Linked DNA regions of Homo sapiens: region 2 is linked to region 1. The links come from fine-mapping of genetic effects on gene expression. A gene starts in region 1. The other region holds a variant in brackets. All regions are shown on one strand. Distances are between the middles of the regions.

Region 1 (5,371 bases):
TAGCCAGGCGTGGTGCTGGGCGGCTGTAATCCTAGCTACTTGGGAGGCTGAGGTAAGGGAATCCAGGAGACGTTTGAACCCAGGAGACGGAGGTTGCAGTGAGCTGGGTTCACGCCATTGCACTCCAGTCTGGGCGACAGAGCGAGACTCCATCTCAAAAAAAAAAAAAAAAAAAAAGGCTGGGCGTGGTGACTCACGCCTGTAATCCCAGCACTTTGGGAGGCCGAGGCAGGCGGATCACGAGGTCAGGAGATCGAGACCATCCTGGCTAACACAGTGAAACCCCGTTTCTACTAAAAATACAAAAAATTAGCCGGGCGTAGTGGCGGGCGCCTGTAGTCCCAGCTACTGGGGAGGCTGAGGCAGGAGAACGGCATAAACCCGGGAGGCAGAGCTTGCAGTGAGCCGAGATCGCGCCACTGCACTCCAGCCTGGGCCAACAGAGTGAGACTCCATCTCAAAAAAAGAAAAGTGAAATAGATTTGAAACCATTAAAAAAATTTTCAGAAAAAAATTGGATGGTTGCATCTGTACTGAACATGTACAAACTTTTTTACCTGTCATTATTCCTTAAACAACACAACTATTTACATAACATTTACATTGTATTAGTTGTTGTAAATAACCTATTGTTTAAAGTATATGGGAGGACATGCATAGGTTATATGCAAATACTACACCACTTTATTTATTTTTTATCTTTTTAATAGCTTTAAGTAGGGTGGGCATATGCCTATCCCAGATAAAATACTACACCATTTTATGTAAGGGACTTGAGCATTTATAGATTTTGGTATCCTCAGTAGGGGTCCTGGAACCAATCTCCAGCATATACTGTGGGATGACTATATAGCTAATTTAGTTCAACACTGTACATAACAATGTATCATATTAGCTACTATGAGATATAAGTTTGGGTAATTGTGTATCTGTATGTATACATATTTAGATATCCATGTACACATACTGATATAACATTTCTCATATATAACATATAAACATATGGTTAAATGAACATACAGTCCACGTAGGAAAGGGCTGGAAAATGTTTGCATTTTTTAATGAGTTTGACCCCATGTATTCTATTCTATTTATTCCCCAAACATTTAGCATGCCTGCTGAGTATCAGGTGCTGTGTTGGATACCAGAAATACAAAGATAGATCAGACAGTCCTGTACCTTTAAAAAGCTAGTGCAGTGCCATCAGAGCCAAAAAGAAAGACCAGCTACACAAGACCATCTCAAAAACCCTTTACCCAAATGAATCTTCCCAGTCAGGAGTCCACACATTACCTTAGACCATCTGGGAGACCTTCGTCTGATTTGGAAGCACATAAACTAGAAGATTCCGGAGGACTGGGGGCATTGGCCACAACACCAGCAACCTCAGACGCTGCCATTATGCTCTGTACATTCAGAAACAAATTACAGGCTACAAGTTTCCAAAGTTTAAAACAAATGTATCTCTCCCCCCTCAGAATGTCCACACAACAGAGCTGTCGCAGTAAAGAAACACAAAAACCTGGGCTCCGGGAGAAAATACTTAAGAGTACTAAAAGAGACATTGTATGCAAAGTCCTAGTGTCCTAGTGGGCAGCAATCCTCAGGAGTCACTGTATTTACATAAATATCTAGGAGTCTGTGCAAAGATCTTATTTTCACTTTTGGCAGAAATGTAGTCATTTCAAACAATACATCTTAGTCTGCCAGGATCTTCCAAGTGGTCCCAGGCCTACCTTGTCTGCTATCATTTTTAATAAAAGACGTACTTTTCGGCCTAGTATCAATCAGATCTCATGTTTTTAAATCACTTTATGGCTGTTACATTCAAAGCATTCTCCATTAATTTAAGGGAAGTTTTTGGAGGTGTCTGCCTGTAAGTCAACAAGTAATGCAATACTGGGCAATCCAGGGTGCATATTTTACTGTCAGCGTGCTCCCCACAGATGGGAAAGGCCTGATACCCACTAACTGAGCAAAGAACAGACTCTTCAGAGTGACTAGTGGTGCAAAAAAGAATCCTGGGTTCTCTAGCGTGAAAAAGTCAAGGTAAAAAACATGGTAACACAAGTAAGGGAACTGGGACGGACGCCTTTTTTAAAAATCAAAAGGTCATCTTTTATGCCGCAGAGCAAACTTATGACCTTATGAGGAGAAAAGAAAATCAAAATACTTGGGAGGTGGGGATGAACATCGGGTTAGTTTGCATTCTTGCTTTTATTTTAACAGCATCACACGTATTCCCCCCCGGAACACTGAAGAGCGCATAGGGCAGATAGGTAGATGGGGCTGTGTCAACACCTCAGTCACAGCCCACAGACCCTCTGTGCCTCAGTTTCCCTCATTATACAAAGCTCCTGGGAGAAAATGGGCCCAAACCGCCATTGCTGCTCCCTCAGGTGCAAACATCCCGTCTCCAACATAGCCCAGGGCTGGGGGGTCCTCTGCGCCCGGTGAACGAAACCCCAGGACAAGGGCCATGCATGCAACTCCGTGGCTAGAGAGCCCGTGGCGCGGGTAGGAACAGCTGGCTGGAGGGTCGAGTGTACCAAAAAGAACTCCGCAACCCGGGGCGACCACCAGCGAAGCAGGGGCGCCGGAGCCACGGGTCCTCGGGCGAGAACAGGGGACAGACGGGAAGGGGACAATGGGGGGAAGCGGCGCTGGGTGGCCTTGGCCACCCCCCACAGGGGACTGCTAGGCTGGCCGCTGGCTCGGACCAGACCCCCCTCCACCCCTTCCCCTCGGTCCCCCCACCCCGCTGCCAGCCACCCCCCCGTCCCACTTCTAGGCCGGGACCCCCGCCTCGGTTCTCACAGCACCCTCCACGCCCCCCACCCGACCCCCATGCCCGGCCCTCGCCCCGCAACCCCCACCCACGCTCGCCCCGCACACACCTCCCGCGCCGCGCCCCCGGGAGGAAAGTGGGGGAGGGACGGGACGCACCTGAGCGGGCGGAGCGGGGGGAGGGGGCGGCCGAGCCACGGGGGGAGGGGTCGAGCGCCGGCCCGCGCGCGGCACCTCCCACTTCCGGCGGCACGAGCGGAGGGGGCGAGGCTCCGGCCGCGAGAGGAGAGGCCGCGGTGGCGCCGCGCCGCCCCCGACGGCGCCCTCTGGCGGCGACAGCTGGCGCCGCCGGGGCACGGGGATGCTGCGGGAGACCCCTGAGATACAAGTGGACTCTCCCGGGGCGCGGGGAAGAAGGGAGAGCCGACTGCGAGAAGGAAGGCGACCTGGGTGGGCAGGATCCCCTCTGGGAAGATTACAGGGACAGTCGGGGCCATGGCGGTCAGAAGGAGAAGAGCAACGAGTGGCTTTTAAAGGTCGGAACCGAAATGCCCTTTACAGAGGACGCCATGAAGGAGAGCCTTCTGAAGAGGGACCATGTGGAAGATGCCCCGAGGACTCGGGGAGGCGGAGCCCGCGGGTTCAGCCCCCAGCGCCCGCACGGCCCCTGCCTGCGTAGGCCGCCCGCGGGAGCCGGACCCCGGGCGCCGGTTGCTGTGGCCCGCGGGGGTCGCCGGGCCGCAGGCGCCGCGCTGATTGGCTGCGCCGCGGGCGGAAGTGATGCTGCTGTCACTGCTCCTCCGGCTCCCGGGAAGCCGCGAGTTTCCGCAGGGAGGCGGCGGCAGCTGCGGCGGGGCCGGTGAGTTGGGAACTAGGTGTGGGGCTGGACCTGGGTGGTCAGGGGGCCCCAGAAGTGGGGGAAGCCGGCGTCTGAGGATGAGGGAGCTGCACAGAGGGTGCCTGAGGTCCTGGCGTGGGGGACCAAGGAGATGGGGCCCCAGGGCCCAGAATTCCTGGATAATGTGGGTGCTAATGAGGAGAGGGGCACATTGCACGGAGCGATCGAGGCCGACGGAGGGAGAATCGGGAAACTGACCCGGTACCCAAGCTGGCTTCTAGGAGCCGGGTGTGGAACAGCGAGGACAGTAGCTTGGGAGCAGGATCTTGGACTCCAGGCTGCCCATTCTCTTCTTCCTTGTCAATTAAGAGCTGTAAAGGGAGGCCTAGCCGTTGGGAGAGGTTGAGACCTGCTTTCAGAAGGCATTTAAGGTTCCTTTCCCAGAAGCCTGGGGGATAAAAATGCTGCTTTGCCACTAGTAGACAGAAGGAGCTCCTGCTTCTCTTTCTTCCTGACATCTGTGGTGGGATCTACTGAGTCTGAAGGAGTCTGCCTAGCGGGGCCACTGTCTGGCTAACAAGGGTTTTGTTTGTTAGTTTGTTTACTTAGTAGAGTATGCAGACTGGGGAAGACACCTAAATATCTTGGGAGAATTGAGGCTCCCGGGGGCAGGGAGGGATTGAGAGGGAATATGCCTGGAAACCTAAGAGAAAACGAGAGGAAGAAATGTAGTATGAAGATTTTTAGAGGTAAAGGAGAGGTGGCATAAGTTCTCCTTTCCAGGAAGCCTTTCAGTAAAATTCCCATTTTTCTGGAATGCTTTGAGGTAGAGCCGCTTGGGTGTGTATCTGAGTACTAAGCCCTGCCCCAGGGTGGACCCAGTGGAGAGCAAAGGCTTTTAAAGGAGCCCAGCCACCATAGGTACACACATGTCCTGCCACCCCATTTGTCTGTCCCCCAGTTCTAACTTGGCTCTTTTTTTTTTTTTTTGAGGGCTCCTGAGACCAATTCCCTGGTTCTGTCAAACCCAGGCAATTGGAGTCCCAGTCTGGAGTCTGAGTCCTCACCTTGAAGCCAGCCTCCTGAGCTCAGTACAGGAGTAGCTGCTTAGTGAGGTTCTCTCATCATTCGTTCTCTCCTGGTTGCCCGCTTGTCCTTGGTGCCTGTTCTGTTTTGTTTGCACTCTCTGGCTTTCCCCGTTTCGCCCCCGCCGCCTCCCTCCTTTCACTTTCCCTGGTATCCTTCTGGGATATACAAATCAAGAAGTTAGCTACCACCTGGACTTCTAGGACGTTATTACCTACTCTTTCAAGAGGCATTTTGGTAACTGTTTTTTGCTAGGCCTCTGGGGAACAAAATGAAAAGAGGGTGGCACGATAGCACAGGAAGTGGGTTTTTTGGGTGTTATACTGATTTGGCCTCACCGTACCAGTTCTGCTCCAGTCTATGACCGATTTTAGATCTTTGGAAATGACAATTAATGAAGTTTCTTTGGTCCCTGGTCCTGGAGTTTATCTAACCTCAGCTTGTTGCCCTGGGATTGGTGGGACATTATTTCTTCTGTTCTTGGATCCCACAGGTCTGTAGCCTTTGCTGAGTCAACACTACTCACAGTGAAAGTGATGCCTTTTCTCCATTTGCACAACATGAGTGTGACGTGGTTAGCCAGACCAGGAGCTCAACCTCATGTAGAATCCAGGTGGGCACGGGGCCCTGTTATGGGGAATTAGCCTTGAGGACAACTGG
Region 2 (5,371 bases), 74 kb before region 1:
AAAATAATGCCATAGTCTTAGCCCTTGGACAGCTCACAATCTGATGTGAGACATAGACATAATACCTAAATATTACACAAAACCAAATGCATTTGGTACAAATAGTGAAACAGTGGATCTTGGAAGTGCACAGAGAGAAGCAGCTACTTCTGACATGGTATTAGGCACAGCTTGCTGGAAAAGGAGGGTTTTGTTTTGTTTTTGTTTTTGAGAGGGAGTCTCGCCCAGGGATCCACCCGCCTCAGCCTCCCAAAGTGCTGGGATTATAGGCGTGAGCCACCGCGCCCAGCCAAAACGGAGGTATTTGAAAGAGGAGAAAGCTTTGCAATATGGAGAGTGGTGAGGAGGAGCACTTCATGAAGAAAAGCGTGAACTGTGGTGAGAAGCCAGAAGGCATGGTGGGGATGCCATGGGGCTGACAGGACTTTGGGTTTTATTCTGCAAACAGTAAGGAATCCTTGTAGGTATACGAGAAGAGGGATGATATCGTCTAATTTTAGTTCCAGGAAAACAGCTTCAGTGTGCAGAATAACTTGGAGAGTCTAGCATCATGACTCTAGACATGCAAACAAGGATCTCAGGATACGGGGGCCTGAAAGAGGATGGTGGCAGTGAGGGTAGAAAGGAGGAATCAGCATTCATCCATCGTTTAACCAGTTATTCTCTGCGCTTGATGAGATGTATGGGGTGAGAGAGAGGGAAGAGGAGATGATGGCTTTATTTAACCTCTCTGACTTTTTGTCAGGGAACAAAGCAACAGGGGAAAGCTTTTGAAGCACAATATAGTTTTTTTGTTTGTTTGTTTGTTTTGAGATGGAGTTTCGCTGTGTCACCCAGGCTGGAGTGCAGTGGCGCGATCTCAGCTCACTGCAACCTCCACCTCCTGGTTCAAGTGATTCTCCTGCCTCAGCTTCTCAAGTAGCTGGGATTACAGGTGCCCGCCACCACCCCCAGCTATTTTTTTTGGTATTTTTAGTAGAGATGGGGGTTTCACCATGTTGGCCAGGCTGGTTTCAAACTCCTGACCTCAAGTGACCGCCCGCCTCAGCCTCCCAAAGTCTTAGGATTACAGGTATGAGCCACCGCACCCAGCCAGGAAGTACAATATAGTTTACCAAAGTTTATGTTTATTATTCTGCTTTAATTATAAGGGATAGGTATTAGCATATCTATTTCAGGGATAAGGAAACTGAGACCCAGAGAGACTAAGTGTCTTGTCCAAAGTGATTCTGTTAAGAAGAACAGAGTAGGGGTTCAAATACCGGGGCCTTTCCTTCCTGTGTTCTACGATCTGGGACATGCCTTTGAGATGCTAGTGGGTCATCCTCGTGGAAGTATTCAGCCACCAGCTGACAGTGGGAATCTGGAGAGAAGTTAGAACTGGACAGGCAGACAGGACTCATCCACAGAGAGGCCAAGTTAAAAAATAGACTTGTTCTTTGAGGGAACAGAGAGGGAAAGGAGAAAAATGATTAGGAAAAGAATATTAGGTATAGACAAGGGAGCAAGAGAAAATGATCAGAGCAGTAGAAAACTATGAGGGCTCAGAGTCTCAGAAACCAAGAAGGACCAGGTGGTTTTTCTTTTTTTCCTCTCCTTCCCTGCTTGGCAGGGTTCTGTAAAGGGACCTCAGCGGTGAGGGAGAAGGCTGGGAGCAGTCAACACTCTAGATCCCCGCCCTTCCTGTCACCAAGCCATCCCCATCCCCCCGCCCCAAATCTCCTGAGCATCCCAGGATAACTTTGCTTTTATTGTTTTTATACAGTGGACTTCTGGGTTATATTTTTTTAAAAAAGAGTTTTTGCAATAAAAAGGTTGAAAACCATCGAGCTCAAAGAACCACCCTCCAAATTAGACAAAGCCAGCAAGACCCCGGCTCCATAAGTTGCCTACCCAGTCCCTGCCACCACAACTGGCTTTCCTGGATTGGGCCTCGGGTTGCACACAAGCCCTTGCTGGAGCACTCATCCTGTCATTCCAAACCTCTCCTCTACTCCCCAGACCAGTAAAGAAGAGTTTAGCTGGGAGTGAGGGGGCATTGAGAAAGACTGTGCTCTCTCTAAAAGCACTAAGGTGGAAGGTCAGGAACCCTTCTTGGGCCTCTCCAATAAAGGGCTGGGCAGAAAATTCCAGTTGAAAATCCAGAAAGAGGCCAGGCACAGTGGCTCACACCTGTAATCCCAGCACTTTGGGAGGCCGAGGCAGGCAGATCACCTGAGGTCAGGAGTTCAAGACCAGCATGGCCAACGTGGTGAAACCCTGTCTCTACCAAAAATACAAAAATTAGCTGGGCATGGTGGCACGTGCCTGTAATCCCAGCTAATCAGGAGGCTGAGGCAGGAGAATCGCTTGAACCCAGGAGGCGGAGGTTGCAGTGAGCCAACATCATGCCACTGCACTCCAGCCTGGGCGACAGGGGGAAGACTCCATCTCAAAAAAAGAAAATCCAGGAAGAGAAACACCTCCCAGGGAAGCCCCCATACCTAATGACTAACTTCTGTCTCTCCTGGGAGCCTTCTCTTTCAGGTGCCTGGGCAGGGGAGAGTTCTGGGAAGGAACCAGAACATTTTCTGAGTTCTGGAGCTGCCCTGAGATTCTCCTGGCAGGATGCGACAGCACCTGAGTACATCCTTAGTACCGCAGCCTTGGGTACTATAGCCAGGTGTTTCCCAAAATAGGAGAGCTGGGCTGTGCTGGGGAGAATGAGGAAATCAGCAGAACTGGGGGGATTCTGACGTGGGGGAGCTGGGACTCCTAGGTCCTTTTCCTCAAAGCAAACTGGCCAAGCTCTGCCTCCTCCCATGCCAACTTATCCTCTGTCACCATATTTCCTGAGCTGCTGTCACTCTGGGGCCACCCTCTCTGCTGCGCACT[G/T]TAGGCTGGGTGTCCTCTTGCTTGGTCTTTCAAGGTCAGTGAATCTCATCACTTAGCCTTTTTTCTTTTTTTTTCTTGAGACAGGGTCTCACTCTGTTGCCCAGGCTGGAGTGCGGTGGCGCGATCTCGGCTCCCTGCAACCTCCACCTCCTGGGTTCAAGCAATTCTCCAGCGTCGGCCTGCCAAGTAGCTAGGACTACGGGCACGCACAACCACACCCGGCTAATTTATATATATATTTTGGTAGAGACGGGGTTTCACTATGTGGCCAGAATGGTCTCAAACTCCTTGACCTCAAGTGATCCGCCCACCTCAGCCTCCCAAAGTGCTGGGACTACAGGCGTGAGTCACTGTGCCTGGCCCTACCACTTACTCTTTTCCAAGGCCTGTGGAGGTTTTGACAGGTAGGACAAGGAGTGAGTTCTAGCATCTCCCAATGGCTTGAATAAACAAGCCCATGTGCTGAGCGTGACACAGGTGCCATGGTCAGCTTCATTTTCAACTGAGGACAGAGCAAGAGAAGATTCAAGCCACTGTAACCTGTGGGTGGGACAAGGTTAAATAACAGGAAGGACTTACTGTCTGACCATGAAAAACAGGTGGCGAATAGCTGCTGTGATACCTTGTGGAGCATGGGTTTTCCAGGTGGGTTCCGCAGAGGCTAAAGGTGCTGAAGAGATGCCTCAAGAGCCAGCACAGGCAGGGGAGGGAAGCAGAGGAAATCAAACCTCCCCTTCAAACAGAACACCTCTGTCTTTTTCTCTCTTGTACACTAGGATCCTGCATACAATTGGAAAAGGGGAAAAGGATTCCGCTGCTTTATTTTTTATTTTTATTTATTTATTTATTTTTGAGACGGAGTCTCACTCTGTCGCCCAGGCTGGAGTGCAGTGGTGCGATCTGGGCTCACTGCAAGCTCCGCCTCCTGGGTTCACGCCATTCTCCTGCTTCAGCCTCCCAAGTAGCTGGGACTACAGGCGCCTGCCATCACGCCCGGCTAATTTTTTGTATTTTTTAGTGGAGACGGGGTTTCACCGTGTTAGCCAGGATGGTCTCGATCTCCTGACTTTGTGATCCGTCCGCCTCGGCCTCCCAAAGTGCTGGGATTACAGGCGTGAGCCACTGCGCGCGGCTGATTCTGCTGCTTTAGAAAAAAAAAAGTTTGAAAATTACTGTCATAAACTCTTGGACCATCGACATCCATCATTCTATTGGAGTAGGAGGCACTGGCAAATATTAGTTGAGCCGGGTTACAGGCTGCGGAGAAATGGGGCATCCCATCCAAAGGGGGAAAGGTATACTAGATAAGGTTTGGGGCGACCCAGCCACATTGGGACTCCTTGAAAAACCAGCCAGAGGTGGGGTAAGTGGCGCCAGGGAGCCTGCTTGCTCCCAGGTACCAATGGCCAGCTACAGCCAGGAGAGGCAAGTGGAAGGCAGAGGAACTAGCTGGGAAAAGGAGTCCATTTGCACAGGGCTGGCTGATTTGTTCAAGGTGGGAGGAACCTGGACAGGACCCAGTCGCTGGACTCTGAGACAGGAGCTGTGTGCTCTGTTGGCCATAAGCCCCTCCCCGCTGCTGACTTTAGGCTCCTCTTGTCCTTCCTTGCCCCCTTTTCTCAGCCTTGGGTAAGCTCAGGTCTGGAAATCACTTAGGAAAAGCAGATGAAGCTGACTCACAAGGTTCTGGGACTAAGGAGGCCTGGAGTCACTATAACTGCTCTAAGAACCACAGGACCCTGGGTGGATATTCACCAACATGGTGAAACCCCGTCTGTACTAAAAATGCAAAAATTAGCTGGGCGTAGTGGCGGGTGCCTGTAATCCCAGCTACTCGGGAGGCTGAGGCAGGAGCCAAGATTGCACCACTGCACTACAGCCTGGGTGACAGAGTGAGAACCCACCTCAAAAAAAAAAAAAAAAGAATAGGAAGAGTCCATAGGGTCATAGGAATTAACTGCAGGGAATGAGGCAGTTGCTGTCAATTAAAAAAAAAATCATTACGGAGCATCTACTCAGGGCTAGGTAACAATTAGGTAATAAGCAATACAAATGCTCCCTACCCTTGGTGGAGCTCATAGTCTGTGGGACAGGCAGACATTAAATACATGATTAAAAGTGTGAGTGGTAGACAAAGAAGCACAGGTGCTACTGAGGATTTGCAAGAGGAAGAACCTAATCTTATCTGGGCGTCAGGACAAGACCTTTGAAGAAAGGATATTTAAAGTGTAATGTGAACATGAGAACAGGGAAAGAATGCTGCAGACAAATATATGCAAAGATGCACAAGTGAGAGATCATCGTGCTTTCGGGAAACTTCACAAGAAGCCTGGTGAGGAAAGGGAACTGGCAAGAGATGTTCACGGGGTTGACCTATGGTTGGTGCCTTCAGGGTCAAGGACCCCAGGATTTAATTCAGATAGTTTGTGTCAGTTATCTGATGCTGGGTAACAGACTACTCCAAAATTTAGTGGCCCAAACAAGAATCATTTTTTCA

Which allele goes with the higher level. Positions count from the first base shown, and alleles are read on the strand shown. Sizes are in standard deviations (SD) of each study's normalised expression.
For the expression in non-classical monocytes of the gene that starts at base 3,002 in region 1, allele T in region 2 goes with a lower level than allele G (large effect, 1.0 SD a copy in Schmiedel 2018).

Evidence for each region. PIP is the estimated chance that this variant, and not a neighbour inherited with it, causes the effect.
Region 2: its variant is the best candidate, but not a certain one, in a credible set for the expression of RNF214 in non-classical monocytes (Schmiedel 2018, PIP 0.53).

The regions. Positions count from the first base shown.
Region 1 is chr11:117,230,302-117,235,672 of GRCh38, reverse strand. It overlaps RNF214 (ring finger protein 214), which reads right to left and starts at 3,002. Exons shown (of 15, transcript NM_207343.4): 1 at 2,947-3,002; 2 at 1,294-1,406. The coding sequence starts at 1,400. PCSK7 (proprotein convertase subtilisin/kexin type 7) reads left to right here and starts at 3,600. Exons shown (of 17, transcript NM_004716.4): 1 at 3,600-3,646; 2 at 5,205-5,324. RefSeq lists silencers at 2,863-3,202, 3,413-3,562 and enhancers at 3,753-3,802, 4,672-4,911.
Region 2 is chr11:117,304,391-117,309,761 of GRCh38, reverse strand. All of the region lies in intron 1 of BACE1 (beta-secretase 1), which reads left to right. Among named protein-coding and RNA genes, the nearest start is that of BACE1, 9.2 kb to the left of the region's middle. The variant G/T (reference allele first, on the strand shown) is at 2,875.